Homo sapiens: one gene and its partners. The protein of the gene in region 3 purifies or fractionates together with the protein of the main gene of each other region. This does not show direct contact. Each region holds a gene or a part of one and is shown on either strand. Other genes may lie near its edges.

Region 1 (3,500 bases), on a different chromosome or scaffold from region 3:
GTTAGGATTTCAACCCAGGATTGCCTGACTCCAGAGTCTGGTCTTAACCATTTATCATACTCTGCCACTATGCCACACTGATCATTTTATGTCCTTTTTACAGGTTTGCCAATAGGATTATCCTGCTGCCATCATGTCTTGGTTTGTTGATCTTGCTGGAAAGGCAGAAGATCTTTTAAACCGAGTTGATCAAGGGGCTGCAACAGCTCTCAGTAGGAAAGACAATGCCAGCAACATATATAGCAAAAATACTGACTATACTGAACTTCACCAGCAAAATACAGATTTGATATATCAGACTGGACCTAAATCTACGTATATTTCATCAGCAGCTGATAACATTCGAAATCAAAAAGCCACCATCTTAGCTGGCACTGCAAATGTGAAAGTAGGATCTCGGACACCAGTAGAGGCCTCTCATCCTGTTGAAAATGCATCTGTTCCTAGGCCTTCATCCCATTTTGTGCGAAGAAAAAAGTCAGAACCTGATGATGAGCTGCTGTTTGATTTTCTTAATAGTTCACAGAAGGAGCCTACCGGGAGGGTGGAAATCAGAAAGGAAAAAGGCAAGACACCTGTCTTTCAGAGCTCTCAGACATCAAGTGTCAGTTCTGTGAACCCCAGTGTAACCACCATCAAAACCATTGAAGAAAATTCTTTTGGGAGCCAAACCCACGGTAGTTAATCAGTCCTCTTATTTCTTTTAGAGTTAAGCAAATTGAATGTGTCATCATATGATCCGATGGTGTTTCTCATCTACTGTTATGGAATCTGTCTCCACTGGTGTAAGGGCAGACTCTCTGCAAATGTGTGGTGTAAACAAGGGAGACATCATTGACTACTATTAGTCAATAGACAGTTGTAGCAGGGACTTCATGTTGTCTGGAGGGCAACTTCACCCACTCAGCATCTAACAAAGTATTTCAAATTTGTTTCTCTAAGACATTTTAAGATTAAAAAAAGAAAATTTTGAAATCTGAAAGAAAACATGTCAGTTTGGATCGGGGACTATCCCAGTTGATATCTTTTTGTTACTAGGATTATAAAAATGACAGGAGGCTGTACTTCACGTATTTTCTGGGTTGTGTTTTTTGTGTGTTTTTCCCCCCACATCCTCCACAAATAAAGCTGAGAGACTGAACTTTGATCCAAGTTGAAGAGTTGAAGGCATTGACCTAGTAGTGAAGCAAGAGCTTAGAACTCTTGTTTTCAATTGTTTAATTCCCTCTGAGATTACCTCTACAAGTACACCTTCTTTCTTGTGAAATGAGATTAACGTGGTAAATGTGGCTAATTCAAGTACCTACTAACTGTTTTAAAATAGCTATAGGCTGGGCGTGGTGGCTTACACCTGTAATCCGAGCACTTTGGAACGCTGAGGCAGGCAGAGCACTCGTGCCCAGGAGTTTGAGACCAGCCTAAACAACATAGCAAAACTTTGTCTCTACAAAAAATACAAAAATTAGCCAGGCACAGTGGTGCATGCCTGTAGTCTCAGCTACTTGGGAGGCTGAGGCGGGAGAATTGATTGAGCTCAGGAGGTCGAGGTTGCAGTGAGCCGAGATTGTACCACTACACTCCAGCCTGGGCCGTAGAATGAGACGCTGTCTCCAAAGATAAAAATAGAAAAAAGGCAAAAAACTTGATAGTAGGTTCTTGCAGGGATTCTTTTGTTGTTTTGAGACAGGGTCTTGCTCTATCGCCGAGGCTTAAGTGCCGTGATGCTATCACAGCTCGCACTACCTTTGACCTCCCCAGGCTCAAGCGATCCTCCTGCCTCAGCCTCCTGAGTAGCTGGAACTATAGGTGCACACCACTGTGCCCAGCTAATTTTAAAAAATTATTTTTAATAGAAACAGTGTCTCACTGTGTTGCTCTGGCTGGTCTTGAGCTCAAGTGATCCTCCTACTTTGACCTCCCACAGCATTGGGATTATGGGCATGATCTACCGTGGCCTGGCCATAGGGATTTTTTTTTTTTTTTCTTTTTTGAGACGGAGTCTCACTCTGTCACCCAGGCTGGAGTGCAGTGGCCTGATCTTGGCTCACTGCAAGCTCCACCTCCTGGGTTCATGCCATTCTCCTGCCTCAGCCTCCCAAGTAGCTGGGACTACAGGCGCCTGCCATCACGCCTGGCTAATTTTTTTTTTTTTTTTGTATTTTTAGTAGAGACAGGGTTTCACTGTTAGCCAGGAGGCTCTTGATCTCCTGACCTTGTGATCCGCCCGCCTCGGCCTCCCAAAGTGCTGGGATTACAGGCGTGAGCCACTGTGCCTGGCCTTTTTTAATGTTTTTATTTATTTATTTATTTATTTTTTTGTGAGACGGAGTCTCGCTTTGTCGCCCAGGCTGGAGTGCAGTGACGCGATCTTAGCTCACTGCAACCTCCACCTCCTGGGTTCAAGCGATTCTCCATTTCAGCCTCCCGAGTAGCTGGGACTATAGGTGTGCACCACCACCCTTGGCTAATTTTTGTATTTTTTGGTAGAGATAGGGTTTCATCACGTTGGCCAGGCTGGTCTTGAACTCCGGACCTCAAGTCATCTGCCCACCTTGGCCTCCCAAAGTGCTGAGATTACAGGCGTGAGCCACCACACCTGGCCAGGGATTCTTTATAGAGTTGATTATTGATGGGAGATTGTCATGTTCTTGGATGTTATAGCTTCTTTCATTGTCTTGGCTGTTAGTGAATAAAATCTTTCTTGTATTTTCAAGACAAAAACTTGTATAGAAGAAGACGTTTTGGGTTGTGAAAATAGGATCAGGCAGTAGCAGTTGATTAATATGTTCACATATTCCAAAATTTCTTCTCAGCTATCTTTCAATTAATTACACAAAGAACCTACTAGGTGCAAGGATATGGAAGTGTCCAGTGGGTGAGCTAGACATGTAAACAGATAATTTACTTGTGGTCTAGTAAATGTAGCAATTAAGTATGGTCAGAGTGTTGTGGAAGTATGAAGGAGGAAGTAACTAATTGCCTAGGGTATTCAGAAAGGATTCACAGAGGGTCTGTATTTTTAGCTGGGTCTTAAAGAATGAACAGGAGTTTGCCAGGTAAAAAGTTAGAGACAGCATTCCATGCAGAGAGAACAGACTCTAAGAGGCTAGTAGAGTAGAAAACATTGTAACAAAGTTGGAAACACTGAGTGAGTTGGAGGGTGATGAAGAAAATGTAGCTAGCAAACAAAGTTGGGACCTGTTTGTGAAGGCCCTTGTGTCATACTGTTTATGCAATTAAACCCATTACTTCTATAATCATTGTTAAAGATTGATTCCTGAACAACAGGCTTTAGAATCGCTTGTGTGTTGTTAATTTAAAAATGAATTATTGAGTGCCTTCCCAGGCTTCCTGAATCGTTATTTTCTGGGGATGGAGCCAGGGCATCTGATTTTGTTGTTGTTGTTCTGTGGGTGGTTCTTAGCCAATAAAAGTTGAAAGTGGCTGCCATAGCCAGTGTGATGCTAGTAGAGATCTTTAAGTCAAGAGTTGACATAGCT
Region 2 (3,732 bases), on a different chromosome or scaffold from region 3:
ACCTAAATGATGTTTTAATGATCTCGAACTCTTGCTTGAAACAGCCTTAGTAATAATCCAGTGTACAGCTTGCCTGCAAACATTTCCCAGCCCCACCATGACAAATTTTAAAGTGGTTAGACATTTTGTTTTGAGGAAGTCCAAACCACAACTTTTCCACATTCAGAAATGAAGCTATTTAATTTGCTTACGTGATGAAGGGAGTTGATTGTGTTTCACCCAATCCAGAAGAAAGGGTCCTTGTTTGTATTGGCTTTTTACTTTCAGCCCGGCTAGCTGTTACTGTCCTTATTGTTTAAAACTGGTAGTTGTATTCATTTACTTGGTGTTTGCTTTTTCTGCTTGCTGTAAAAAAACACAGTCCCACTGCCAAACATTTCTTTCAGCTTCAAACACTCCAGAGTGAAAATTCGAACCTCAGGAAACAGGCCACAACCAATGTATATCAGGTGCAAACTGGTTCTGAGTACACAGACACTTCCAACCACTCTTCCTTAAAGAGACGTCCGTCTGCCCGGGGCAGTAGGCCCATGTCCATGTACGAGACCGGATCAGGTCAGAAACCATATCTCCCAATGGGAGAAGCGAGCCGCCCCGAAGAGAGCAGGATGAGACTCCAGCCCTTCCCCGCGCACGTAAGTAACACCACTGGCGCTTCTGCTGTTCACTCTATGCAGCCTGTCTACTCTGTTCCCTCTTCTGAACCTACAGGTCCCCACAGCTCTGCTTTGCCAAATTGGACTAAGAGAGTTACCATTGTGTTTGCTGTATTAACATGTCCACAGATGCTTGCGATATTCCCACAAGCACACAGGGCCATGGGCTGATGGTTTCCTAACCAAGTTGGGGATTCTGGCTCTTGCCCGAACTGCTGCTTTTTTCTCCCCCACATCCATGATTATTTCTCAACCAGCCAGTGTTGGAACTTTTTTTGGTAAAGCTTCCTTCCTTCTCTACTTCCAAAAACAAAAATAAATCATAAAGTTCACTCTCAGAAGGAAGTGTTGCCTTCTTGGAGCTAGACAGGGATGTGCCCCTTTAAGTACTGGAGCCCTTAGAATCCAAGACGTCTTTTCAGCTCCTCCTCAAGCAGGTGGCCTTGAGTCTGTGGCCCAGGTACCCAGGCAAGGCTGGAAGGCTCCAGGCTTCCGCAGCCTCTCCATGTGTGCTCAGTGTGCCTGCTAGGTTCGCTTCTGCATCCTGCTCCTCCCACCGTGGTGGGGGAAGTGTGGCTTTGTTGTCTCAGAAAAGGAAATGTAATACTCTACATCAGTCTTAGAAGCGCTGAATTCCAGAGATTGTGTTCTGCAGCAGGGTTCTTACAATCTTATTTTGCATTGGGATACATACTGTGTTATAAGGTTTTCAAATATATTTCTTCTGGATTACTTTATTATAAAAATATGTGTTTTGCCAAGATGTTACATTTAAACTTTTTCATGGGATGCTTTTTCAGAGAGTAGTATTTGTCTTTTTGAGTGTCAAAGTTTATTATTTCTTCAGTCAAATTTTATGGGAGTTTCCAAAAAAATTCTCAAGGTAGATGCAAAGCAAGGACATGGTTTCGTGAATTAAACCCTAGTTTAATTTTGTCAATTTTCAGTGTGGTAAAATTACAATATTGTTTTACTATAATTGGGAGTCTGTTATCTCAGATTCTTTTTAAGATATTTGGGTTTAACATTCTAAGGCAATTGATTTGATACATTTGATGTAATGGGAATGCCACTGAACTAAGTTAAGAATCTTTTTTTTTTGAGATGGAGTCTCGCTCTGTCACCCAGGCTGGAGTGCAGTGGTGTGATCTCAGCTCACTGCAACCTTTACCTCCTGGGTTCAAGCAGTTCTCCTGCCTCAGCCTCCTGAGTAGCTGGGACTACAGGCACATGGTCCTGTGCCTGGCTAATTTTTTTGTTTTAGTAGAGACGGGGTTTCATCATGTTGCCCAGGCTGGTCTCAAACTCCTGAGCTCAGGCAATCCGCCCGCCTCAGCCTCCCAAAGTGCTAGGATTACAGGTGTGAGCTACCATGCCCACCCTAAGTTAAGAATCTTATTTTTGTATAGCTGAAGACAAAATTTAGGAAAAGCAACTTTGTTATTTTTCAGTGTACTTTCTTATTTTAGAAAAAATTAGAATATAAAGATATATCAGGAAGGCACTGTAATTGTACTAAAAATTAGATTGATAGTGTATAGCAACTTAGAATCATTTTTATAGTTTCTCATTTCACATCAGTCCTGATTGAAAAACAAATATGCATTTCATAGTATCCATTAAAAAATTATTGACAAGTTTGACAAATTATGTTAGGTATTTCCCTTATGGAAAAGCAGCCTTATTAAATTCAGAGTAATTTCCAGGAGGTGTTTCACCAAGGGTTTAAGCATCTCTGGGGTCCTGTCACTGGTGGCCACTGAGATTGCAGCACTCACGTCACATAATGTGTGGTGTTCCAGGATTCTTTTACTGAAGCTGGCAAGGTGGTAGGTTTTTGGTTTGTTTTGTATTTTCCCGAGTGTGTTTCTCTTTCCCATTCCAGATCGGGAGGAGTGCACTTGTGACCTCCTCTTCATCTCTGCCTTCCTTCCCCTCCACACTTTCCTGGTCGAGGGACGAAAGCGCCCGAAGGGTTAAGTACATTCTGAATGGTCTGCTCTCTGGAGGAGGGGCCGTGCTCCTGGGCGCTTTGTGCTTGGGCTCTGGCCCTCCTGTCCCTGCTAACTGCCCTTCCGTCCTGCATGAGGCAGCACTTCCTCCTGGTTTCTCACAGTGCATCAGGCTCACACTCGTCCACATGCACGCTCACCCATCGAGGGCGCCTCCCTTTCTCTAACCCCATACTGCTCATGTTCACGTCATATTTAACAAAGTTTGCAAATCACCCTACAGCATTTATTCTGAGCAAACTGTTTTTTTAAACAACGAGAAAATTAGCTGGCTGCTGGTTAGATATTATAATAGGCCAAATTTGTTCAATTTGTTCAGGGCTACAGTTGTCAGATTGAAACTGCTGTATGTGGACTCGCTGAAGTACTAAAATGTCATGCCTTTTTTTTTTTTTTTAACCTGTGACACATTTTATGTCAGCACCACAAGTGCTGACAAACCAAGGTTTACAAGTCCCTGCATCTTGAATCAGAATTGTAACACCTTGTGGCATTGGAGCTATGCAAGCAGCTGTTAACCTAAAGCTGTTCACTTGTACGGGTTGGTTAAACCTCACCTACTGGTGTATAATTTATGGTCTCAATAGCAGTGCATGATTCAGGTAAGCCTCTTTTAGAGTAGTCAGGCAGTAAGTATTAAGCACCTCCTCCATACACAGCGTTTGGGTAAGTCAATGAAAGGGTCCTAAGGACTTAGCTGGCACAGCCCCTGCTCCCAAAGGCACTGTCAATTAAAAAATACTTTCATGCATAAAGAGTGGTACATGACCACAACCTGGGAAAGCCGTGGAAAGGGCATAGGCTTTGAAATCCACGTCCCAGTTCTGGCTCCATCTCTTTTTTAATGGAAGGGTAATGTAAGGTAAGAGGAGGAAGGTGGCTGTGGGTAAGGGACCACCTTTACAGGCAAGGTGGGGTTTGCACTGGGCCTTTGCCATTCCCTCCACACCTAGGAATTATGGAGAGCCTTTCTTTCCTAGTTCCAGTGGCATATGGATTACCAAGGCCCTTTCAGGATTCGTTTTTTTATTTTTTATTTTTTAGAGACAGAGTCTCATGTTGCC
Region 3 (3,702 bases):
GAGTGGGATGTTAAATATCTAGTACTAGAGGAATGAATAATAATTGTGGTTCAGTCATTGTGTGAAATATTATGCAGCCATTAAAATTTATATTTAGGAAAAAACAATATTAAATGTAAAGTGGGACATGAAATTTTAATCTCCTGTATGTATTCACACATCAAAAGATTACAAGGAACTCTACAATATTAACAATGTTCATCTCAGAAGTATGTTAATAAGTGATTGTTATTTTATTGTTTATACTTTCACACACTGATTTTTGCATGGTGATTATACACTACTTTGTAATCAGATTTTTTTAATGTAAATAATAATAAATGCAGGTCTTAGCCATTGTTTCTTTTCATTTCCTTGAAGCATTTCTTTGAAGGTGTTGAAGCTCGCGTGGCACAGGGCATAAGGGAGGAGGAAGTAAGTTACCAACTTGCATTTAACAAACAAGAACTTCGTAAAGTCATTAAGGAGTACCCTGGAAAGGAAGTAAAAAAAGGTCTAGATAACCTCTACAAGAAAGTTGATAAACATTTATGTGAAGAAGAGAACTTACTTCAGGTATGCTTACTTCTTTTGACCATCTGACTTAAAGATCCTTACATATATTGCTTTTCTTTAAATAATTTTCTAGAAATGCTACAGATCTAGAGCAGGAGGAGAGTTCCATTAGAGTACAGACCAGATTAATGAATTGTGAGGAAGAAAGGAATACTGTTTATATAAGCATATATGGCTATTTCTGCTTATTTCGTATTTCTGCTATATTATGGTGAGGCATTAAGTTTGTTTTTCTTTGGTTGGTTGGTTGGTTGGTTGGTTGGTTGGTTGAGTGGTTGGAATTAGAGATGGGTTCATAATCTGGCTCCAGATTAAGCTGTGTGACTTTGGGAAGTTACTTAACCTCTCTGAGCCTTAGTTTCCTTATTTGATAAGTGGAAACGATACATCTCTTGTACAGTAGCCACTGTATTGGGCAACATAGCAAGACCTTGTCTCTACTAAAAATTAAAAAAATTAGCTGGGCATGGTGGCACGTGCCTGTAGTCCCAGCTACTCGGGAAGCTGAGGCAGGAGGATCACTTGAGCCCAGGAGATTGAGGCTCCAGTGAACTATGATCCTACCACTGCACTCCAGCCTACGCAACAGAGTGAGGCCGTGTCTCAATTAAAAAAAAAAAAAAAAAGAAAGAAAGAAAGAAAAAGAAAGAAAGAGAAAGAAAGAAAATCAGCTTAGAGAGGTGGAGTAATAGGACCAAGCTCTCTTAACTAATGGGTAGTGGAGCCAGATTTAAAGTCCAAATTAGGCCATTATTCTTTATAAACCATATTGAAAGGCCCAGATATGAGTGAGAGTAATTCTGATTTCAACATCATGGAAGACTTCCTGAGGGATATTGCATTGTTTGTTTTAACCTCTGAAAGTCAGATGTACTTGAACAGGCAAAGTGGGGATGGAGGGAGTAGCATTCTAGAAAGAAATAATATGAGCTAAACGATGAAAAGTAAAAAGCATAACACTGCTTAGGGAATAGCGATTGGTCTTAAGTTGGCAGGAATTTAGGATTTATGAGATTTAGGATTTACAAGAAAAAATCTTGGAAGAATACATTCCCTCAGCTGTCAAATAGGGAAGATGATCATAATACCCACCCTCACCAGGTCATCATGAGACTTAATACTATAATATATTCATAAAGTGCTTTGTACTGTGCTGATAAAGAGTAAGCTTCAATTAATGTAATCTATTTAAGCCATTATGTCAATGTGTGTATCACATTGTGTCTTGGTAATTGTCTACATATTAGCCTCCACTGTTAGATTATAAATCACATGATTGCAGATAATGGGTCTGAGTCATTTTGCTGTCCTCCAAGGCATCAAGCAAGGTTTTGCATCAACAATTTTAGATAAAGAAAACTTTAAATGTTATAGGAAATGAAATTAAAGCATTACATTTTATGTAATCACTAGTCTTAGTTCTATACATAATTGTGCATATCCACATCTGTGTTGCATATTGGAGTATATAAGATAATAGCTAAAATGTCATGAGTGCTTACTTGTGTCAAACGCAGTTTGAAGCACTTTATGTACATTTCTTATTTAATTCTCACAGCATTATGAGGAAGGTCTTATTATTATCTTGGTTTATAGATGAGGAACTTGAGGCATAGAGCAGTGATGTCATGTACTGAAGGTTACAAATCTTGTAGGTAAAAGTGACTGGGATTCTGGTTTCAGAATGCATGTTCCTAGCTACTATACTACCCAAATTCTTAGAATATGCCTTGGCATTATTTCTGCATACTAGATTACATATTATTTCCATTCATAGCCTAATGACTTTTTTTTTTAATAATAGGTGGTGTGGCACTCCATGCAAGATGAATTTATACGCCAGTATAAGCACTTTGAAGGTTTGATAGCTCGCTGTTATCCTGGATCTGGTGTTACAATGGAATTCACTATTCAGGACATTCTGGATTATTGTTCCAGCATTGCACAGTCCCACTAAACCTTGTGAAAGAAGAAAAGATAACTGAATGAAGCATTTGAGTATAACAGACACTATACCAAAATACCAAGCAACTGTTTTGAGAACCCAGACTTAAAATTTTATGTATTATTAAATGTTAGATAAATGGGTAGTACCATACTACAAATATTTAAATGCAAAATTACCAACCTATATAGCAGTTTTATTTGCCCTATAGGTTGCATACTAACTTAAGCATTCATGTCACCATAAAATGCCTTTAGCATTTCTCAATGACTGGATGGGAAATTTTCCTTTATTGCCTAGCTGCTTGTGTTTGAGTGGTTGTCCTATGAGCAATGCATTTGGAGTTCTTCAGCTTTCACTACTTCTCTGTTGCTTGCTAATCATGTAACTACTAAAATACTGTACAAAATTGTTTTTTCACACTAACAAATGTGTATATGGAGAAGAGGGCTCATGTGATGATCATTTGTGAACTTAGATTTTTGAGGATTATGTGACTAGTAATAAATGTGAAATAAATTTTCAAAAAAGTTGACATTTGATAATATTTTTAGGTCTATCATATGCTGTCTTCTGTATTAAAGCAAGTTCTTACAAAATCCATATACAAAAATTAATTGCAAGTTTATATACCACAAAACACTTAAAAGTTTAATAATAAGTAAAGTAAGCCGGGTGCAGTGGTTCATGCCTGTAATTCCAGCACTCTAGGAGGCCAAGGAGGGAGGACTGATTGAGGCCAGGAATTTGAGACTAGTCTGGGCGACACAGTGAGACCCTGTCTCCATAGAAGAACAATTTTTTGTGGTGGCACATGCCTATAATCTAAGCCACTTGAGAAGCTGAGGCAGGAGGATTGCCCCAGCCCAAGAGTTTGAGTGAGTTGTGATTGTGCCACTGTACTCCATCCTGGGCAACATAGCAAGATATTGTCACTTGAAAAAAAAATAAGAAAAATAATAATATTGAAGATGTTTAGTATTTAGGACTAACTCTAACAAAAGATGTGCTATATCCTGAATTGTGGCCCTACTAACATTTTATGTTGATGCCCTAACCCCCCATGTGGCTGTATTGGAGATAGGGTCTTTAAGGAGACGATTAAGTTTAAATGAGGTCAGAAGAGTAGGAACCCTGATCCAATAGACTCAATGCCCTTGTAAGAAGAGGAAGAGACAGCAGAGCTCACTCTCCCTCTGCTG

What was found.
Region 1: the proteins of EXOC1 (region 3) and GOLGA5 purify together in Homo sapiens (affinity purification with mass spectrometry; 2 studies listed by BioGRID and IntAct, with this or other methods). This does not show direct contact.
Region 2: the proteins of EXOC1 (region 3) and GIT2 purify together in Homo sapiens (affinity purification with mass spectrometry; 2 studies listed by BioGRID and IntAct, with this or other methods). This does not show direct contact.

Annotation. Positions count from the first base shown.
Region 1 is NC_000014.9:92,797,305-92,800,804, forward strand, and holds part of GOLGA5 (golgin subfamily A member 5), read left to right. Parts: intron 1-103; 5' UTR 104-133; coding exon 134-677; intron 678-3,500. UniProt on the Homo sapiens protein: Involved in maintaining Golgi structure. Stimulates the formation of Golgi stacks and ribbons. Involved in intra-Golgi retrograde transport.
Region 2 is NC_000012.12:109,944,159-109,947,890, reverse strand, and holds part of GIT2 (ARF GTPase-activating protein GIT2), read left to right. Parts: exon of another isoform or gene 1-386; coding exon 387-635; intron 636-2,541; coding exon 2,542-2,631; intron 2,632-3,732. UniProt on the Homo sapiens protein: GTPase-activating protein for ADP ribosylation factor family members, including ARF1.
Region 3 is NC_000004.12:55,901,984-55,905,685, forward strand, and holds the end of EXOC1 (exocyst complex component 1), read left to right. Parts: intron 1-360; coding exon 361-555; intron 556-2,359; coding exon 2,360-2,512; 3' UTR 2,513-3,103; downstream 3,104-3,702.